2 separate regions of the Homo sapiens genome follow, and region 2 is linked to region 1. A link means that fine-mapping ties the variant in region 1 to the expression of a gene that starts in the linked region. Tissue or cell type: whole blood. Region 1 holds a variant in brackets; the other region holds the start of a gene. All regions are shown on one strand. Distances are from middle to middle.

The links. PIP is the estimated chance that this variant, and not a neighbour inherited with it, causes the effect.
Region 2: PRKCA starts here. The variant in region 1 is fine-mapped to the expression of PRKCA in whole blood (TOPMed, PIP 0.97).

What each region holds. Positions count from the first base shown.
Region 1 is chr17:66,539,141-66,546,805 of GRCh38, reverse strand. All of the region lies in intron 3 of PRKCA (protein kinase C alpha), which reads right to left. Among named protein-coding and RNA genes, the nearest start is that of PRKCA-AS1, 130 kb to the right of the region's middle. RefSeq lists a silencer at 4,326-4,375. The variant A/G (reference allele first, on the strand shown) is at 4,460.
Region 2 is chr17:66,299,640-66,304,639 of GRCh38, reverse strand. It overlaps PRKCA (protein kinase C alpha), which reads right to left and starts at 2,027. Exons shown (of 17, transcript NM_002737.3): 1 at 1,616-2,027. The coding sequence starts at 1,788. RefSeq lists an enhancer at 732-1,233.

The DNA.
Region 1 (7,665 bases):
AACACGAAGAGGTAAAACTAATGCTGCGGGTCGTATTGTGTTCCCCAAAACAATATCTCGAAGCCTTTACTCCAGGTCTACGTGAATGTGACGTTATTTGGAAATAAGGTCTTTGCAAATGTAATGAAGTAACATGAGGCCAATATTGGATTAGGGTAGCCCCTAAATCCAATGATTGCTATTTTTATAAGGAAAGAAAGATTTGGAAATGGCAGGCACACACAGAGGGAAGATGGCCATGTGAACACAGAGGCGGAAACTGGAGAGATGCAGCCACAAGCCAATGAACATAGAGGATTAGCGGCAACTAACACAACGTAGGAAAATGCAAGGAAAGATTCTTGCCAAGAGCCTTCAAAGGAAGCATGACCCTGCCAAGGCCTTAATTGTGGACTTCTAGCTTTCAGAACTGTGTATGAATACATTTCTGTTGTTTTGAGACACTCTATGTTAATCTGTTATGGCAGCCTTAGAAACTAATACAGCTAATCATATTAGAAACTAATACAACCAAACATAATAAAATGAAGTAATTAAAAATACTCATCCCAACAGAAGGAAAAAGGGAACAAGAGGATGAACTGAATGCAAATAAAAGGATAGTGGTCATTAAATGTAAATTATAATCCCATGTAAATTAATGATAATTCCATTACATATAAATGGTGTAAAGACTGCAATTAAATGGCAAAGATTGTCACAGCAGATAAAAAAGGACCAGACTACATACTGATACTGTCTATATGAAACTCGTTTTAGACTTAAAGACACAGATATATGAAAAGTAAAAGGATAAAAAACGAAGTATCATGGTAACATTAATCTAAAAGAAAGCTAGACTGGCCAGATTAATATCAAACAGTAAATTTCAGAGCAAAATTAACAAGTCTCAGTAAGGTTTATTCTCATACAAAATCTAATTTACTTTTTTTCCTAAAAGAAAAATGAATATGGTAAATGACTTTCCAATCACATGACACACTTCATATTTTCCACCAACATTCACTAAACACTTGGATTCTGCAGGAAACATTCTGCACTGACTATGATTTCTATAATGATCAGATTTTTTTAATGTTCTTCTCTTTTGTATTTGTAGTGATAAAATTTTGCCTGACATTTTTCCTTGAAGAAAGTAAACATAGCCTGCCACAAAAACTGATATTGACAGAGCCTCAGTGGTTAAGCCTTTTTTTCTCATTAATTCTCCCGATATTTTAGCTCTAGTAATCTAGCCCTAGACAAAAACACTGGTAGCTCACACTCAGGAATGCATGATGTGATGTAGGATTAAAAAAAATAACAGTCTTACTACAAGGATACAAACATTTTTTAAAGTAAAGTCATACAGTATGTAGATAAATTATCTGTTTTTTTGAGACAGAGTCTCGCTCTGTCGCCCAGGCTGGAGTGCAGTGGCACAATCTTGGCTCACTGCAAGCTCCGCCTTTTGGGTTCACGCCATTCTCCTACCTCAGCCTCCTGAGTAGCTGGGACTACAGGCACCCGCCACCACGCCTGGCTAATTTTTTGTATTTTTTAGTAGAGGCGGGGTTTCACCGTGTTAGCCAGGATGGTCTCGATCTCCTGACCTCGTGATCTGCCCGCCTTGGCCTCCCAAAGTGCTGGGATTACAGGCGTGATTCACTGCGCCCAGCCTAAATTATCTGTATTAAACTCCTGCAGCACTGACAAGTAGAAATAACATTTTTGAAAGCTCAGAGAAGTATTTTCCAACATTTGCTTAAGCCTAGAAAAAAGTCTGGCAATCAATAAACATTTGATTAACTTAAATAATGTAACTTTCGGTAAGTTACTTATCATTTCGTGATCTGTAAAATAGAGAAAATAATGGTAATTTATTAACCACCTAAGGAAATCGTAATAATTTACTTTTAAAAAATGATATTGGTGGTCGGACATGGTGGCTCATGCCTGTAATCCCAGCACTTTGGGAGGCCGAGGCGGGTGGATCACCTGAGGTCAAGAGTTTGAAACCTGCCTGACCAACATGGTGAAATCCCATCTCTACTAAAAATACAAAAATTAGCTGGGCATGGTGGCGCATGCCTGTAATCCCAGCTACTTGGGAGGGTGAGACAGTAGAATGGCTTGAACCTGGGAGGTGGAGGTTGCAGTGAGCTGAGATCATGCCACAGTACTCCAGCCTGGGTGACAAAGCAAGACTCACTCCATCTTAAAAAAAAAATGATATTGGTAATTCTTTCTTTGAATAAAGAAGACTAAAAGTACTGTAACAAGGCTTCATGTAACTCTCAATGTAAGGGAGTAACCTCATTTTCTGGAAAACTGAATATTTTCTTTTTATGTACTAAGGCTTGTTTTTAGTCTTTTCTTTTTTAAACCAGCATGTATACAAATATTTCTAAAACGCACTTTAAGTCCCTTGTTTTGTTAAACAAAATATGTCAATATACTTCAACATTTTCTCAATGATCACAGTGGTGACCTAGAATACTAGTGTTTATAGTATTTTGGTTCACAGCATTGGGTTCATGAACTACATGGGGGTCTTCTTCCTAAACTAAGTGGCCATGAGAAATCTTTTGTAGTTGTTGTTTGAGATGGGGTCTCGCTGTGTCGCCCAGGCTGCAGTGCAGTGGTCTGATCTTGGCTCACTGCAGTCTCCACCTCCCGGGTTCCAGCGATTCTCCTGCCTCAGCTCCCCCCACCACCCCAGTAGCAGGGACTACAGGTGTGCACCACCACACGTGGCTAATTTTTGTATTTTTTTTAGTACAGTCAGGGTTTCACCAAGTCGGCCAGGCTGGTCTCGAACTCCTGACCTCAAGTGATCTGCCTGCCTTGGCCTCCCAAAGTGCTGGGATTACAGGCGTGAGCCACAGCACCCAGCCTAGCAATCTTGTTTCTGTACAATTATGGGGCCTGCTGAAGTTCAGTCCTGCTCTCACTGAGTCTACTGTTTTACCATCCTCCCATTTTCTGCTTCTGACATTTGACACCAGAAAGCCAGCAAACCAGGCTTGTTCCAGAACTTTGGGGTGTAGCCTTTTCTATGGTGTAGGGTACATGGACTTCATGATGCCTCTTGGGATTGCTAAGTGTCTAACAATGTTCAATTCTGTCTTCACCACAGCACTATGTTGCTTCGTATTTCTGCATTATAAAATCTGCCTGATAAATAATCCGCTTGTTCCTCTCATATGCTGACAGATTTCTGCATGGTCAATGGAGCTTAGAGTATATAAAATACAAGTCTGGGAGAGTTTCCTTATAGTTCAAATATATAAATTTAATGTTCAAAAGAATGTAATTGTTTCAAGCAACATACTAGTAGACAAGCTGGAACTCACTGATTTCATTTCATTAGTCTCAAATAACAAAGGGTACTTCATAGCATCAAAAGCCAGACCTCACAATAACTTATGTTTTAGTATCTTACAGTATCTCATTATATAAATAATAAAATGACTAGGGTTTTGGTGAGAAGGAAGAGAGAAGAGCCACATGGTATTCAAAGAATGCCAGGAAACCACAAATACTGCATTCTTTTGAACATTAAATATACTTGAACTATAATGGAAACTCTCCCAGACTTACATTTTATATAAATACACTAAGCTCCATTCACTGTGAAGAAAACTGTCGTCATACGGAAGAAAATAAGTTGATTATTTATCAGGCAAAATTTATAACACAAAGTGCTAAATCAGGCACATTGCATTAAACATTATACTGACTATAAACAAGGATAGAAATTACGGAAGTGCATAGCTTTGGAAATTGAGTGAAAATAACAGCATAATTCAACTTTAATTGGATGCCTATAGATGAAACAATAATTGACTCTTAACTGTAACTCCAAGATATTTTATGACTATAACATTTTCTAAGTAATCTACTTGAAAAATACCTCATTGACTCATCAAATCCTATCTTTAAAATGTTACCCTCGTTCCAAGAAAATCACATGCATACACTAGAATGAAATGACTTGTCAAATATAATTTGAATCCAGTAAAACAAAAAAAGCATTAATCTGTACTTTCTCATTAATAGCAAGATAATTTTCCAAGTGAAACACACACAATACAATACACATTTGTTGAGACTCCCCAATGGCTCCCACTTGTCTTTCCAACCTTCATATCCTTCCACAGGCCTTTGCAGAGGAATCCCTTCCGACTATCAGTCTCTGAAGAATTCTCACACTTCCTGACACCACACCTCTACTCAGGGTGCTCTGCCCTCCCTACTTGGGACTATTGTGTCTCCTCACCCAAGTCTTATTGGAACATCTTTCCAGGTCCTTCATAACTGCTCTATTTCCCAAGAAGCCTTCTTGGGGCAGAAATAATCCCTCCTTGCTCTCACCCCCATGGTACTCAGCACCTGGTACTCTCATGTGCGACTTCTATGCTCTGGGTTTTCTCACAGCACACATGGCTTACTAACTGCCTATCTCCCAACCACACAC[A/G]GGAAGCTCTTAAGGCCAAGTAGCACCACTGTATGTCCACAGAAACTAGCACAAAGACTGTGCACATACAAATTAATTGCAAACCACATCGTGAAAATCCTAAGCATAAAGAAAGAAAAAGGTCATATTTTAATCACCATCTAATACAGAACAGTTTCTTAAGGCCTCTCTGTAATAATTTTAAAGTTAAGGGGAAAATGCTTGGCTCAGTCCACTCCGTATAAACTCCTTAAACATTAACTAGTAATTTTAAAAGCATGAAATGACTTTCTCCCCTGGGGCTTTATATAGAACCATAATAACCGCAACACGAGCTTCAGGACTCTGCAATTGCCTGATACTAAAGTCCCACTGTGAGATTCCACGTGGTGGCTTGTTATCAGCCTTACATAGAACAAATGTGGTCAGCCAAAAATTTACTGTGGGGCTCAAAAACATTTTAGGGGCTCATACAAGCTTAGGGCCTTGACATTTAAGTGATAACTGAGAGGCATGCACTGATAGAAAATCCTCAGAGACTCAGAAGAGTTTTAAACAATGCAGTTGTACATTTTTATAGGGCACATGTTCTGAAACCTCAAAAATAGATATGTAAATGTCATCTGAAGCTGTGTCATTTTTACTTAATTTTTGGCATAACCTGTCGCCTCAAAAAGTCTTTGTGGCTTGTGTATGGCAGGCAAACGGTGTCAGATGCACTTCCAAAGTGCCATGAGGCGTGGACTGGACGTCAGCTCTGCTTTGCACGTGCAATTCCTGCCTGCAGAACTGCAGCTAGCATCTGCTGCCTCTGGCATCTGCTGCCTCTGGATGAGCCTCTATTTGGAAAGTGGGAATTATTTTTTCTTCCACATCCAAGACCAGCAGAGTAGCTTTCAATCCCAGTCAACTGCTCTTTGCCGCAGAAATCAATATAAGCAACAGAGGAAAAAAACAATAAAGGGGCTAAGCCTCCAAAATCTTGCATTTTCCCTTGGCTCGGGCAAAGGTCCCCTCATTTCTTTCAAGAACACCAGAGGCAAGAGTTTGAGGTGGGGGCCGCAGGAGCACGTACCACAAGACCTTCTTACTGAGCCACAATCTGCAGCTAACTCTTGGTCAATCTGTGCAGTGGAGAAGCGGCACACAACATATCAAAATCTAGTTAAAAAATAAAACAAAACCCCTCATGGTCACATCTTTGTTCAAACTATCTTACTAGAGCTCGTGCTTCCAAAGAATCAGATAGACTCATTTGAGAGTCTACTCTAAATCTTGCCCTCCCCTGTAGCTGGAATGGTCCCTAAACAGCTCTGAGATGGCCAGAGAATACCAGTGGAAACAGCTAGTAACAGCCACTTCCTACCTCTGTAGGGTTCTACCAAATACTTGCACATACCTTGTCTTATTTGGTCATTTTCCACAGTGTGGGATACCATAGGTGTGACCATTTTCTCAGCTGAGAAAAGGGAGGCTCAGGGAGTGCACAGAGAAATATACAACGGAATAGGTCCAGGAAGTGCCAGATCTCGAGGTCAAACCATGATACTAATAATTACCCTCGACTGCCTCTGTTGTAAGCCACCATATTCAATCTTTTGATAGACAGAGAAATGGGAGACTCAAACAAGTGACAGAGACAGAACCGGGGGTTTCACACAAGGTCTCACAGAGCCTACAGCCTGAATTCCGTCTCAGCCTAGGAACCCTCTGCAAAATCCAGATGTTTTGCCTTCAGGCCCAGCTGGCCTTCGACCACAGAGCACTCACAAAGTGCAGCAGGGCCCCGCTGGGAGGCCCCACTCCACTCCGAGTGCTGCTTCTAACTGCAGCCCCCGCACGGCAGCCCGCCACCCAACTGACTGCTCTGGGCTATTTATGAGATGGTCCCTGCTCTCGGGAGACGTCCCTCTTTGGATTATTCATCCTCTCCTCACCCCCAAAGCAGCAAAACCAGCACACGCCGTCCCCCCAGCGTCAAGCCCCACTCCAGGGTTTGCAGGCAGCTGCCTCCCTCTCCGCCCCCTCTTTTAGAGACAGTCAGGGCTCCAGACTCTCCGCTGGGCTCTGTGCTGAATGTTACCCTTTGTCTCAGAACCCTGGGCTGGCTCTGACGGCTGGAAAGCCTGAACAACAATGATGAATCAGAGTATTTATTTTTGAGGTTTTCTCCAAGCTGCCTCTTCATCAGCTCTGAAATAGCAGCATTCAAGCTGCCACAGACACTTCCCGAAGTTTGCTGGCCTAGGGTTCCCAATGGGGAAAACATCACCTCCCTGGCAACAAACACAACAGCCTCCTAACACCCCTTCTGCAGGAGAGGCACCAACTGCATCTCTCCAAAAGACGGGTGGCCTACATGTTTAAATTGATTTTCGAAATTATTTTCAAATCCCTCGGGTTGCGTGAGCAAGGGTGGATTTCTATTTCTAAGTGTGGTGACCTTTTCTAAAACTGTTTTATGCTTTTCACTCTTCTGTGATTGGTGCCACCTAGGACTGCACACTGCATTCATTTGGTGTGTCTGAGTGAGCTGTTTAATCCAGAACAAGGAAACTCATCCCTTCAAATCTGAATTAAAGAAGCATCTCTCTGGGTACGATGAGGTTTTCTGATGTAAAACTCTCATCTAAAAGTTAGCCATTCTTATTAAGATTGAAACCTTAGGCCGGGCGCGGTGCTTACGCCTGTAATCCCAGAACTTTGGGAGGCCAAGGCGGGCAGATCACAAATCAGGTGATCGAGACTATCCTGGCTAACACAGTGAAACCCCATCTCTACTAAAAATAAAAAAAAATTAGCTGGATGTGGTGGCGGGCGCCTGTAGTCCCAGCTACTCAGGAGGCTGAGGCAGGAGAATGGCGTGAACCTGAGAGGCGGAGCTTGCAGTGAGCCGAGATCACGCCACTGCAATCCAGCCTGGAGGACAGAGCAAGACTCCATCTCAAAAAAAAAAAAAAGATTTCAAAGCTTAAATTAAATGAATTTAATGAAATAACTAGCCTTGCAAAAGGGAAACGTAAGAATAACTCACAAATTAGAAAAGTATTGTTTCTTGCTGTGCTGCTTGATGGCTTGTCACAGCAGAACAATATCCTCCACCCAAAGCGTTTATTTACACACATACACTCAGCCTGACGTTTAAGAGTGCAAAGGAGTTTTTAAAAAAGGCAGCTGGGGAAAAAACAAGAGTGAAAATCTGAGGACACCACACAGAAATACAATGA
Region 2 (5,000 bases), 240 kb after region 1:
ATGTTTTTCCCCAGGTGTGATGGATTCCGACAGAGCCATCCATACTATGCTCACCCTAGTGGCCCAAGATACCTGTGCCACACAGCTGGCTGGTGGCAGGATTCACTCCGTGACTGCCACCCTGTGCAGCTCCCCCTGGCCTAGAAGGAGAGGGAGCTAAGAAGCCCTAGCCATAGCTCTGTCTTGCCCGGAACTTCCTACACCACAAAGAAGAGGTAGAAGAGTCAGGACGTCGGGCAACTTAAAAGAAAAACCAAACTACTGCTGCTCTAACTAGAGGACCTAGAGCTCCTTTAGTTCCAGCTTTCAAAACTTTTGTGTGGTGACGGGGATCTGGGAAGAAGGGTCACACACCTTTTGAGGATCAGATGAAAGCTGTAATTCTCTCACCAGGAAAAAGATTCACAAACACAATTTCCCTCAGTTTTACAGGGTTCAGAGACCCCTGAAGCCCTTCTATGTATCGATTCTCCATAAGCCCCCAGGGACCCTCCGAGTTAAGAATGCCTGAATTCATTGGCGATTACCTGATCTCTGACCTCTGGCCCTTATATTATTTTTCTTAAATAAGGCCTCTGCCCTCATCAACAGGGTTACAGGTCTAATCTCGAGTTGACAGGGTCTGTTTCATTTTTTTTGAGACGGAATCTCGCTCTGTCTCACCCAGGCTGGAGTGCAGTGGCCCGATCTCGGCTCACTGCAGCCTCCGCCTCCCGGGTTCAAGCGAGTCTCCCGTCTCAGCCTCCCGAGTAGCTGGGATTACAGGCGTGTGCCACCACGCCCGGCTAATTTTGTATTTTTAGTAGACGGGGTTTCACCATGTTTGCCAGGCTGGTCTCGAACTACTGACCTTAGGTGATCCGCCTGCCTCGGCCTCCCAAAGTGCTGGGATTACAGGCGTGAGCCACCGCGCCTGGCCGACAGGGTCTATTTTAAATGAGTCCCTCTGCCCTTGTGCCATTTGCCTGCTAGAACTCCCCCTCCCCCACTGCAAGCTTTCAACAGTTTGCTCTCTCTCTCTCTGCTCACTCAGAAAAGTCAGTCTCTCCGTGCCCAGTAGATGCAGCCTACAGTAGGCAGGGGCCCAAGATGCCAGCGCAGTCCAGCCCGATGGGAAGCACAAACACAACCCCCCCACCCCGAACGCGCCCAGCCTGGCTCGCCAGCAACTTGGACCGCGCGCAGTGCAATCGCCGCCGCTCCCCCGTTACTCCGGGGCGCGTTTCTCCGGGAACCTTTGCCCCCTTAGGGCCTCTCCTCCTCCCCTGTCCCCTGGGCTCACACCCCGGCAAGCGGCCGCTCCGCTGGGTGCGTGCGGGTGGGCGCGCCCGGGGAGGTGAGGGGCCCGGCCCGGAGAGGGATCCCCTTCGCCACCGTACGGGGCCAGCCTCCCTCTCGCGCCAGGGGGTGTGTGTGGCGGGACGGCGACGTCCCGGGAGTCCTGCCCGCCGGTGTCAGGGCCGGGCGCGCGTGTCACTCCGGGCGAAGAGTTCGGACTCCCGCCGGTTCCAAGTTATCGGAGTGAGCCAGCCCCGGGGCGGACGCGCCGGAGCGCCGGGTGCCGGGACCCGGAGGCGGGGAGGAGCGGGGCAGGAGTGCCCGGCCCGGCACCTACCAGATGAAGTCGGTGCAGTGGCTGCAGAAGGTGGGCTGCTTGAAGAAGCGCGCGATGAATTTGTGGTCCTTCACCTCGTGCACGTTCTTCTGCCTCAGCGCCCCTTTGCGGGCGAAGCGGTTGGCCACGTCCTGAGACGCCGTGGAGTCGTTGCCCGGGAAAACGTCAGCCATGGTCCCCCCCAACCACCTCTTGCCTCCGCCGGGGAGCTGCGGCCGCGGAGGGCCGGGTGGGCGGGGGCGGCGGGGGAGAGGTGCGGGCTCGGGGCGACCCCGGGCGCGGGGCGCGGGCCGGTGGCCGAGGTCGCGGCGAGGGGGCGCGGCGGGGGCCGGGGAGAGTCGGGCTGGTGCTGCGCGGAGCGGGAGCGGGAGCCGGAGCCGCTGGCTCGCCCGCTGGCCCCAGGCTCACTGACAGCCCGGTGCCCGGCGCTCGCGCTTCCTACTCGCGGCGGCAGAGGCGGCCCGGAGCGGCACCGCCCACCGCGCATGCCCCGAGCGCGAGGCCGCGAGGACGAGCGGCGGGGGCGCGCGGGCCGGGCGCGCGCGGGGGTGCGGCGAGGGTGCGGCGGCGGCGGCGCTGAGCGGACCGGACCGAGTGCGGAGGAGGCAGCGAGTGCCTTGCGGTGCTGGGAACACTGGGCAAGGGGAGGCGGCGGCGGCGGCGGCGGCGGCGGCGGCGGCGGCGGCGGCGGCCGGGGGAGGGCCGGCCCGAGTGGGGATGCGGGGGAGGAGGCCGGGAGTGGCGGGTCCGCGCTCCTCCGCCGCCTTTTTCTTTCCTCCCCTTCCTGCGCCCGGCTCTCCTCCCTCTCGCCCTCCTCCGCCTCAGTTCTCCTCCTCTTCTTCCGCTCTTGCCGCCCGGCCTCCTCCTCTCCCGGTCTTCCTTCTCCCACTCCCGCTCTCTCTCTTGTCGACGGGCTCGGAGTCCTGCGCCACCCGTGCCGGGCCGAGAGGAGCCCGCGTCCGGGAGTGGGCTCCACGCGCAGCCCCTGCCCCGGAGCCTCCCGCCCGGTGCTCACCTCCTAACCCCTCAGCACCCGCAGCAGGGAGCCCCTTCCCCATCCTCAGGACCCCCGGTGTCTCCAGGGCACGACGCCCGTGTTTTAGCTGCCTGTACCAGCTTGAGGTTTCACCTGGCCAAAATGTCACTTTCATCACGTGTGCACTAAAAGACCTAGCCCCTAGACCTTCCTACAGGAGGAAGAGAGCGATTTTTAAATAATTAAGCATTGACCCTTTCCCCTACCTTCTCTTCTTGACCTATACCTTATTTCACCTGCGTGTGGTAGAGACTTTTAATTTGTACGTCGGGCATTTATCACCACGTGGGATGGTTAAAGGACTTGTCTTAGGTATTTATCCCGTTATTCAATGGCCACCAGAGCGACGATGTTGATTATCAGGCTTTCTTGATTTTACAAGTCCAGGACCTTAATTTAGAAATCATTTTGCATCCCAAGCTAATTACTGCAATACTGTCAGGTGCAGAGTGCAGCCAGTACGTTTGTAACTTACCAAGTAAAACTGCCTGTGAAAGAGTAGCGGGCATGGCTATGCAAAGGACGCAGGTGGGGATGCACCAGCTAATCACTCGCTGAATATTTATCAGGTCTGCCTGGAGGCCGCTAAAATACATAAGGGAAATAATCATTTCTCAGCGTTTCATTGGTGTTTTGTTTTATTTGCCAGATTCACGAAATCCCCAAAACGACTTTACGAGCTAAAGAGACCAAGAAAGAGAACACGTTTGATCCTTCAATAAATTTATGTTGAAAAAAAAAACTTTTCTAAAATACTTTCTTAGAGCATGTAACATAGGCCAAGTAGAGCTAATATTGTTTTCTTTGAGATTGCCTAATTGTGATGCTTGATGATAGGAATGTCCTTTATATTTTTAACAAATGGAAGCTCTCCTGACTGGCCGTCAGTGGTGCATGCACTTGACTGATCCATTTACAATCTCTTGAGCCAGTCTTGGTGCTTCAAGAGCCTGCACCTGCCTGGTATTCTAGCTGGTCAGAAATTTCGCCACTCATGGTCGCCCCTCGGGTCCAAGGAGTCAAAAAGGGAAGAAGCAAAGAGGAATGAAGAGCAGGGCATGTTGGGGAAATAGTCCCAATTCTCCATGAAACACTAGAAGCATCTCAAGCCATGGTGGTTTATTGCTTGAAAGCAGAAATCAAATGGAACATAGTGGAATGAAATAATTTCTTTTCTCATAGTCGTCTTTTATCTAAGACGGAGATCCTGGCACATTTTACAAAGACAAGCTTATTTCTATGTCCCTGAGGCTTTCATAGGAGGATGGAGAGAGCTGGAGGGTGAAGTTGCTGATAATGGAATCCTGAGTAAAGTCATAGGAAAGACAAGAACAGAATGAGCCCTGGCAGCAGCCTGCGAATCTCCTGTGTACTCCATGGAGTGACTGTCTTAGCTGTCAGTAGATCAGATGGAACAATGTGTCTGTTTTCTTTTAGGTTGTGGCTTTGCATTCTTGCCTCAGTTGTTAGTGTTGTTCCTGGTGGGTACGAGGAGGAATGATTGACTGGAAGTCAACTGATTCATGGTTGGGCTGGGCATGAAAGCATCAATAGCCCACATCTTAGCTCAGTTGGGGAGAGGGGACTGTGCACCCAGAGTGGGGATTTATCAATTACCAAGCAGTGTAACACTGTCCCTAGCAAGGACTGATGGAAATGTGGGCCAGCATCTACTCCTGCAGCCTACCTGAAGTCCCCATGGTATAACTAAAATGGAGGAGATTAAGGACGGGAGAACCCCCTGGGTTGGGGGTAGTCAGTCAGTCATGAGGGCATGAGTAAATTTTATTTTCGAGTCTGCTATTTCATGGGGAAGGTGCGGGAAAAGAACAGGGAATGTCAGACTGAACGCAGAGTTTTTCAGAATCCGCTTCTGTCCTCTGCCTTTGAGGAGTAAGCTCAACACTGTTTGGAGAGGTGTCACCTAGACCAGGGGGACCCAGAGGCTGGAGGCTGGGATCAAAGTCAGACCACCAAACAGATGACTCAGAATCCCAATGGTTTGAAGCCAGCGGTCTTTCAGATACAATTTACAGCTTGCTGCTCTATGCAGCTAACTGGACTGTTTTCAAATGAACCAGGACATTTTCAAATTGGGCAATAGGAATTGCATAAGTATCGAAAAAGCATCATTCTGAGATTTATGGTAACCAAGATGACTTAAGGCTTATATTTTATTCTATGCACCATATTCAAGGTTTAGGAGAGGCAAGGCAACTGCCGAAATGCGTAAGCAGGCAGCAGTCAGATTCACTGTAACTGGCAGATCTCTAAACAGGTAGAGGTGAGGATCTACCTGAGTAGCAGAACACTAGAGTCAGGGGCCATTTTGGGGTAAGTTTAAGGAGC